2 linked regions of the Homo sapiens genome follow. The protein of the gene in region 1 purifies or fractionates together with the protein of each later gene. This does not show direct contact. Each region holds a gene or a part of one and is shown in the gene's direction. Other genes may lie near its edges.

Region 1 (3,500 bases):
ATAGTCAGTGAATAAGTAAAGAAATGAGTGAGCAAATATCTCTTAAAAAGAACAGACTTTTAAAGTTAACAAGCAGTGATGTGTTATTCAGTAGCAAATAAGATTGTTTCCTAATGTCATAATTCAATTTTCCCTGCTTCCTACTATGACTAGATGTTGGTTGGTGATAGTTTATATGATTCAGTTATTTGGTTGGTTGATTTAAAACAGTGAAATATCCTACAAACCTGCAGTTTGTCCTGCTATCCTCTAGATGGAGAGCCTTTATAATTTTGGTCAAAATGTGTGTGTGTATATATAGGCCCCTTACCATTATTATATGTGATTTTTAGAATTGTCATCCATGTTTTTTTTTTCCATGCCGAGTCCTGTTTTACTTTGGATACATTTCAGAAATAAAGTCACTTTTTTGTTAGAAGTCAGTGGAGTTAGAAAGTCAAATGGAGTACATGTTATTTAGTCAATTCCTTATTTTTGGAATTTTAAAAAGCACGGAAATAAATAATATGAAGAGTAGAGAAAGTTTCCATGAATTCTGGGAGGAAGAAAAATCATTTGTGAATAACAGCATTCAGTTCACTTATAGCTTCATGATTTTTTTTTTGAAATAGTTGTTCTTCCTAAGTTTCTTCATTGATTCCATTGCCCTGCTGTGTATAATTTGACATTTGTTTGGATGTGTAGGGTAGCCTGTGTAGTCAGAATTTTCAGACCTAATAATGGACATTGTATGAACTCTCTGAGGATTCTTTTGGACATTAGTTCTTACCTTGACAGTCAGATAAAATTAAGGACTTGGGGAGTAGATATCTGATGAACCAGAATAATGTCTTTTAAAAAAACTTTATATAAAGAAGCAGTAGCAATCTCCTTATGGGTACACCTTTATATATTTTAATAGTAATATGGACAAGTTAGGCCCTCCACTTCGAACGGGAAGACTTGTGCAAAGGTTGTATGACAGTGATACAAAATCAGACAGTGCCATCAAAAGACATGAGTTATTACCTATTTACAAGTAAGTATTTGTAACTCAGTTTGGTTAATATTTTTCAGATATTTCCTTAAAAGCTTTATATAATGGAATAACATAACTTTTACTGTCCTATACTTAAAAAAATCTGTTGAATAATTTCTAAGCCAAAATGTGTCAAATAATCTAGGATTTAAAACATTTTGATTTTTAGTAAGCATTTCTGTTGTACTAAATAAAACTTTTTAGGTTATACATTTTATTCCATTAAATATTAATTTTTTGAGGTTTCAAATTGCAGTCACATTTAATAATTATTTTTATGAAGTTTTTTTTAGTAGTAATTAGGGTTTTTTGTAATAGTAGTTTTAAAAAGCAGAGTTTGAGAAAAATAATGTCTTGTACAGTATATAATATTGTTAGATTATCTCTTAGATAAGCCGATGGTGAACTATTATAAAAAGCCCAGAAAAAGAAAAGATTTTAGGAAACTTTCAATCCAAGGGTCCTTAGTCTTTTTGTTAGATGGTTGTAAATTCTGCCTACAACCGGGAAAAAGTATGACACTGCCAAAGAGTCAAGCTCGAGGAAGAGTATGACACAGCCAGTTCTGACCTGGCTGGCTGAAAAGAGTGTGTGGCAATGGCAGTTACTTTGAAACTCTACAGCATGAGTCTTCAAGGTTTACTAATTTGGGTCTCAATTCTAGCCCACATTTTAAATATGAAATTAGGGCCTAAAAATTAATATACCTATTAATGGTGGAAAATATTAAGCAGAGTAACTTAGTTAACTTTTAAACCAACACCTACTACAACAGTCTGCTCAGTATGTATGTATGAAAAGTAATAATAAATTTAACTAGATAAACAAAGGTAGGAGAAGTCTTTAAGATACTAGCAGCAGCCATTTGCTATTTTTAAGTAGTGATAAATCCTAGCAGGAAGAGTTTGTGCTGTGAGCCGTTTTTCATTTTGCTGATTCTACTGTCAGAACTCTCTGATGCAGATCTCACAGTAACAGTGACTAGCAGTAAGATGGATTAAGTACAATTCCAAAATTAAACCTTCTTTAATTATTCATATGAGCTGTTAACAGGTAGATTCTAGATACAGAGTAAGAGTAATGCTTTGCAGATTCTGAACAGAAAGAAAAATTTGTGGACTGTGTAAGACTGGGGCAAGATGTTTTAAGTGATCAAGGCCATTCTAGATGTTACTAAAAATAAATGACAGGTATTTAATATTGGTAGCTATTAATGATGATAATCTCTTATATTTTCCTCTAAATATAAACATTTTGAACAACCTCAAGTTACCGATATGGTGACATTATGTGTATATATTCATGGGTGTGTTTGTATTGTTTGTATATCTCATGCACTTAAGACGATTCTATAGCCAAAAAAAAAAAAAGTGTTCTTCCTATTTAAAGTCCATTCTTTGACAATGATTTCCTAAAGATTGAATTTCTAGAAAAAGACTCTAGTAGTTCTACAACATCCCCAAAGAGGCTATACACAAGAGTAGAGTAAACCTCATGAATGGACTTGGAGTGAGCATTTGAAGAGGTGCAGGGCATTCCATTCATGCACCAAAGTGATTCTTTGCTTGTTGAAGTTTAGAAGTAATTTAAAGAAGTAACTATGCAAAGCAACCACTTTGAATGACAGCATTGTGTATTGAATATGAGTTCTGTAATACAGCCCACTTAAGTTCAAGTACTACTCTGGCCACGTAGTAGCCTCACAATTTATATAATCTCTTTGAACATGCTTCCACTTTAAAATGGGAATAATATCTTCTGAGATTTGGGGGACATTAAATAAGGCATGTGTAGTATCTGGCTTCATAATTGTCATGTAGTGGCTGTTTGAAAAATAGTGGATGTTGTTATTACCTGCATGTACTTTGGAAGCAGCTATTTACAATTTTAGGGTACTCTCTCCTACTTTGCCATATAAGTAGAGTAAGAAAAATTTCAACTAAAGTTTAAGAACCTCTAATCTGGAGGTATTTTTTAAAGTATTCTGCTGTTCATATAACACTGTTCACCTGTGAAATTTAAAGATTTGATTAAAGCTCTATAGAGAGGGAGGGAACTATGCTTCAATGAACATCTAAATCCTAGCTTTGGAACACACTAGCAGGGTCACCTTGGGTAAGTTACTTAGGGGCTCTTTACCTCATTTGTCTTATCTGTAAATGGAGTTATGAACGCTACCTATTTCATAGGATTATTAGGATAAATAAATTTCTATGGGCAAAATAATTAGAATTGTACTTGACATGGAGTAAGCACTATTATATAAATGTTAACTTATAGTGGCAACAACAGTAGTAATAGTATTAGCATCAGCTATCTAAATGTTTATATGAATTGTACTTTTTTTCTCATAACCTTTCTATAAGTGATCATTTTATAAATGATGAGACTCAGACTTGCTGTCACAAAGCTGTCAGTAGCATTAGCATTTGAATCTAAATTCATTTGAATTCCCAAGCCTCTGCTTTTAGTGTTATATCAT
Region 2 (3,500 bases), on another chromosome or scaffold:
AACTCAGAAGTGTGCAGTTTTGTAATTGAGCATCCGTGTTGCGAGCATAAATAAGAGTTGTTTATGTTGCAGACACCCAGGGTGTGGCCCCAGACATCTGAAACAATCATCCTGGTGGCGTTCACTCTAACACAGGGTTTCTCAGCACTGTTGACATTGTGGGTCATATAGTTCTTTTTGTGGGAGGCTGTCCTGTGCATTGTAGGATATTATCAGCAGCATCCTTGGCCTCTACTCAGGAGATGCTAGTAGCACCGCTCCAGTGTGACAACCAGAAATGTCTCCCTGGGGAACAAAACCATCCCTGATTGAGAACCATTGTTCTAACCTAACAAAACGTGATTTCCCCAGGCAAAACCAAACTATCGAGTTAGAAATCAGAAGAGAGGCTGCCTAGGGGCAAAGGAGGGAAATAAGCAGGAAAGGTACATGAGGGAAATATATCTTGATTGCAGGGGGTGGTTACACGGGCATATGCATTCATCAAAACTCTTCTGAAGGTACACTTGTGATTTGTGATTATGGCTCAGTTTTTTAAAAATAATCATTTATAAAAGGTAATATTTACCCCTAAAAGATAGGGATTTGCTTGTTACAGAGCCATATTCCCAATAACCATTACGACTTGGAATAGTATTTCTTGCCCTCATGTTTGCCATCTGCAGGGTAGGACTGAAGTAGCATAAAACTGAGTCAGCATGAAGAGGAGGGCTGCTATTCGTTTATCTGTCTTTCCTTCCTGGATGGATCTCGTAGGACATCATAAAACTGCAGAAGCTTAGAGAAGCATGAGAGTTTCTTGTCAGATACTGCTCTTTTGTTCATGTTGATGGCAAGACAAAGTCTCCATCAGGTCTTGCAACCCAGAGGTGTGCTGTTTCATAACTGAGCATCCTCACTGGGAACACAGATAAGAGTTGTTTATGACTCAAAATTATGATGCTGGCCCTCTCACTTCCTCATGGGGTCTCCTCAGTTTCACAGTAGCACTAAGTACTTTACATGTGCTAACTTCATGTAATCCTTACAACAACTCCATGGGATGGATGCTATCATTATCCTAATTTTGTAAATGATGAAACTGAGACTTAGAGAGGTTAAGCAACTTTCTTAGAGTCACCTAGCTAAATGGTAGAACTGGGATTCAAATCCAGGCAGCAGGTACTGGAATCCAAGCAACCTAACCACCTTGCTACATTGTCTCTCCAAGATCAGTACGTTTCGCTTCCTGGCTTTGCAAGTGTTATTCATTGTGTTTGGAATCTACCTTTTTCTCCTTGCCGTGACCCACTTTACCTTATGAATCTGTTTGTCTGGATCGTAATCCATCCTTCCAGATCCACTTTAAGTATTGCCCCTCTATCCCAGAAACATTGGTTTTTGAGGGAGAAGTATTGTTAATTTCCATGAACAATTGTTAATTGCTTGCTAGGTAGTAGATACTGTTCTAGGTGCTAGGAAAAGATACACAGATAAGCTCCTGATCTTCAAGAAGGTCTTGATCTGCACTGTCACTAAGCCCATGTGACCATGTCAGTATGGTAACCACTTGCCACATGTGACTATATAAATTTAATTATAATTTTTAAATACAATTTCATTTTTTCAGGGGCACTCTCTACACCCAAGTGCTCCATAGACACATGTGGCTATTAGCTAGCATTTTGGACTGCACAGATACAGAACACTTCCATTACTGTAGAAAGTTCTATTGAACAATGCAGGCCTACTTCAAAGATTGGTAAACAAGGGCCCATGAGTCAAGTCTGCCCTGCCGCCTGCTCTGGTAAATAAGTTTTTGTTGTTTGTTTGTTTTTGTTTGTTTGTTTTGAGATGGAGTTTTGCTCTTGTTGCCCAGACTGGAGTGCAGTGGCACGATCTCGGCTCACTGCAACCTCCGCCTCCCAGGTTTAAGCAATTCTCCTGTCTCAGCCTCCTGAATAGCTGGGATTACAGGTGCCCACCACTACGCCTGGCTAATGTTTTTGGTATTTTTAGTAGAGATGGGGTTTCACCATGTTGGCCAGGCTGGTCTCCAACTCCTGACCTCAGGTGATCTGCCCACCTCGGCCTCCCAAAGTGCTGGGATTACAGGCGTGAGCCACCGCACCCAGCCGGTAAAAGTTAATTTACTGTCTATGGCTGTTTGGAGGCTGTAAGAACAGAGTGGAGTAGTTCAACCGAGATAGGCTGGCCTACCAGGCCAAAATTATTTACTATCTGTCCCTTTACAGAAAGTTTACCAGTCTCTGGCCCAGATCAAACAGGAAGTGGGATGCATTGGAGAACTGCAGCCAATCCTGTGTTTTAAGAAACTAAGAAACAAGTTTGAAGGTTAAGCCCGGGAGGTGATTAACAGCTAGGCCACGGAAGTCCTGGTGTGCTTGCATTTCTCAGAGAGTACTCTAAAAGAATACCAGTCCAGGCCAGGTGTAGTGGCTCACATCTGTAATCCTAGCACTTTGGGAGACCAAAGCGAGCAGATTGCTTGAGCCCAAAAGTTCGAGACCAGACTGGGCAACATGGACTTAGTTCCTGCAGAACTAAGACTACTTGAAACCTACTTTGAGACACTTTGCCTTAAGGAGCCATTGAATACTTTTAAGCTAAGGAGAGACATACTCAAATGTGCTTTATAAGTTGAGGTCCTTGATTCTTTGTTGGCGTGTCTTTCAATAGCACTTGTCTTACCTAGTGATACAGTATTTAATAGTTGTGAGCTTGTCTAAACCAAGGTCAACTACTATTCTCTTTGAGGACAGGCATTATGTTACTCACATTTATATCTTAAGCTTTTGCTGCCTCTAGACCCTTAGTAAATTCTCAATATGTTTGTGGGATGGGAATAAGCCAATTGGCAATATAGCCATTTGCACTGTTGCAAACTCATTAGTCATCTTCCTTATTTAGCTCCTTGGCAGAAGCTAATATCTCCAAACTGGAGGAGCAAATAAGATGTAGAGCAGAAATGTGAGGGTGGGGAAATATTTTAAGCTGTCAAAAGGCCTAGAGGTCCACAGATAAGAGCCTCCACCTGCATACCTACAGCCTGCCTGTGGGGATGCTGTCATCGGCAATGACTCACTTGCTGGACCAGTATCAGGCCAAATTAATGTGCCATTAGTCTTAAGAGTCAACAGAAAGGCCCCCACACCCTTATCCCACCTTCCAGACACTGAGACATCAGCCCGCCTCCTGCATGGGTACAGGTGAATTGAGGAGCCTTCCAATCCAAAGCCACCGGGTTTCTTGCTTCTGTCTCTTTCTTCTTTAGAGAGAAGACAGTAGGTTTGTCTTTGGAAAGACAGAGGTATGACATACTTGATTTGTACATATGTGATTTCCTTTAGATTCGGTGCTCTCCTGGGGACCTTACCTGTACAGCATGGTAAGTAGATACACATCTGCACCCTCTGGGCAAACAGCCCAGCAGATCTCTTCTGGCTGTGACCCCAGGAAAAGAGATGCTGGATGAGTTTGCCTATGTGGTTGACACTGCT

Evidence for each region. Proteins that work in one complex are often made in the same cells at the same time.
Region 2: the proteins of ZC2HC1A (region 1) and SCPEP1 fractionate together in Homo sapiens (co-fractionation; one large-scale study listed by BioGRID). This does not show direct contact.

What each region holds. Positions count from the first base shown.
Region 1 is NC_000008.11:78,711,089-78,714,588, forward strand, and holds part of ZC2HC1A (zinc finger C2HC domain-containing protein 1A), read left to right. Parts: intron 1-901; coding exon of another isoform or gene 902-1,018; intron 1,019-3,500.
Region 2 is NC_000017.11:56,991,631-56,995,130, forward strand, and holds part of SCPEP1 (retinoid-inducible serine carboxypeptidase precursor), read left to right. Parts: intron 1-3,350; coding exon 3,351-3,388; intron 3,389-3,500. UniProt on the Homo sapiens protein: May be involved in vascular wall and kidney homeostasis.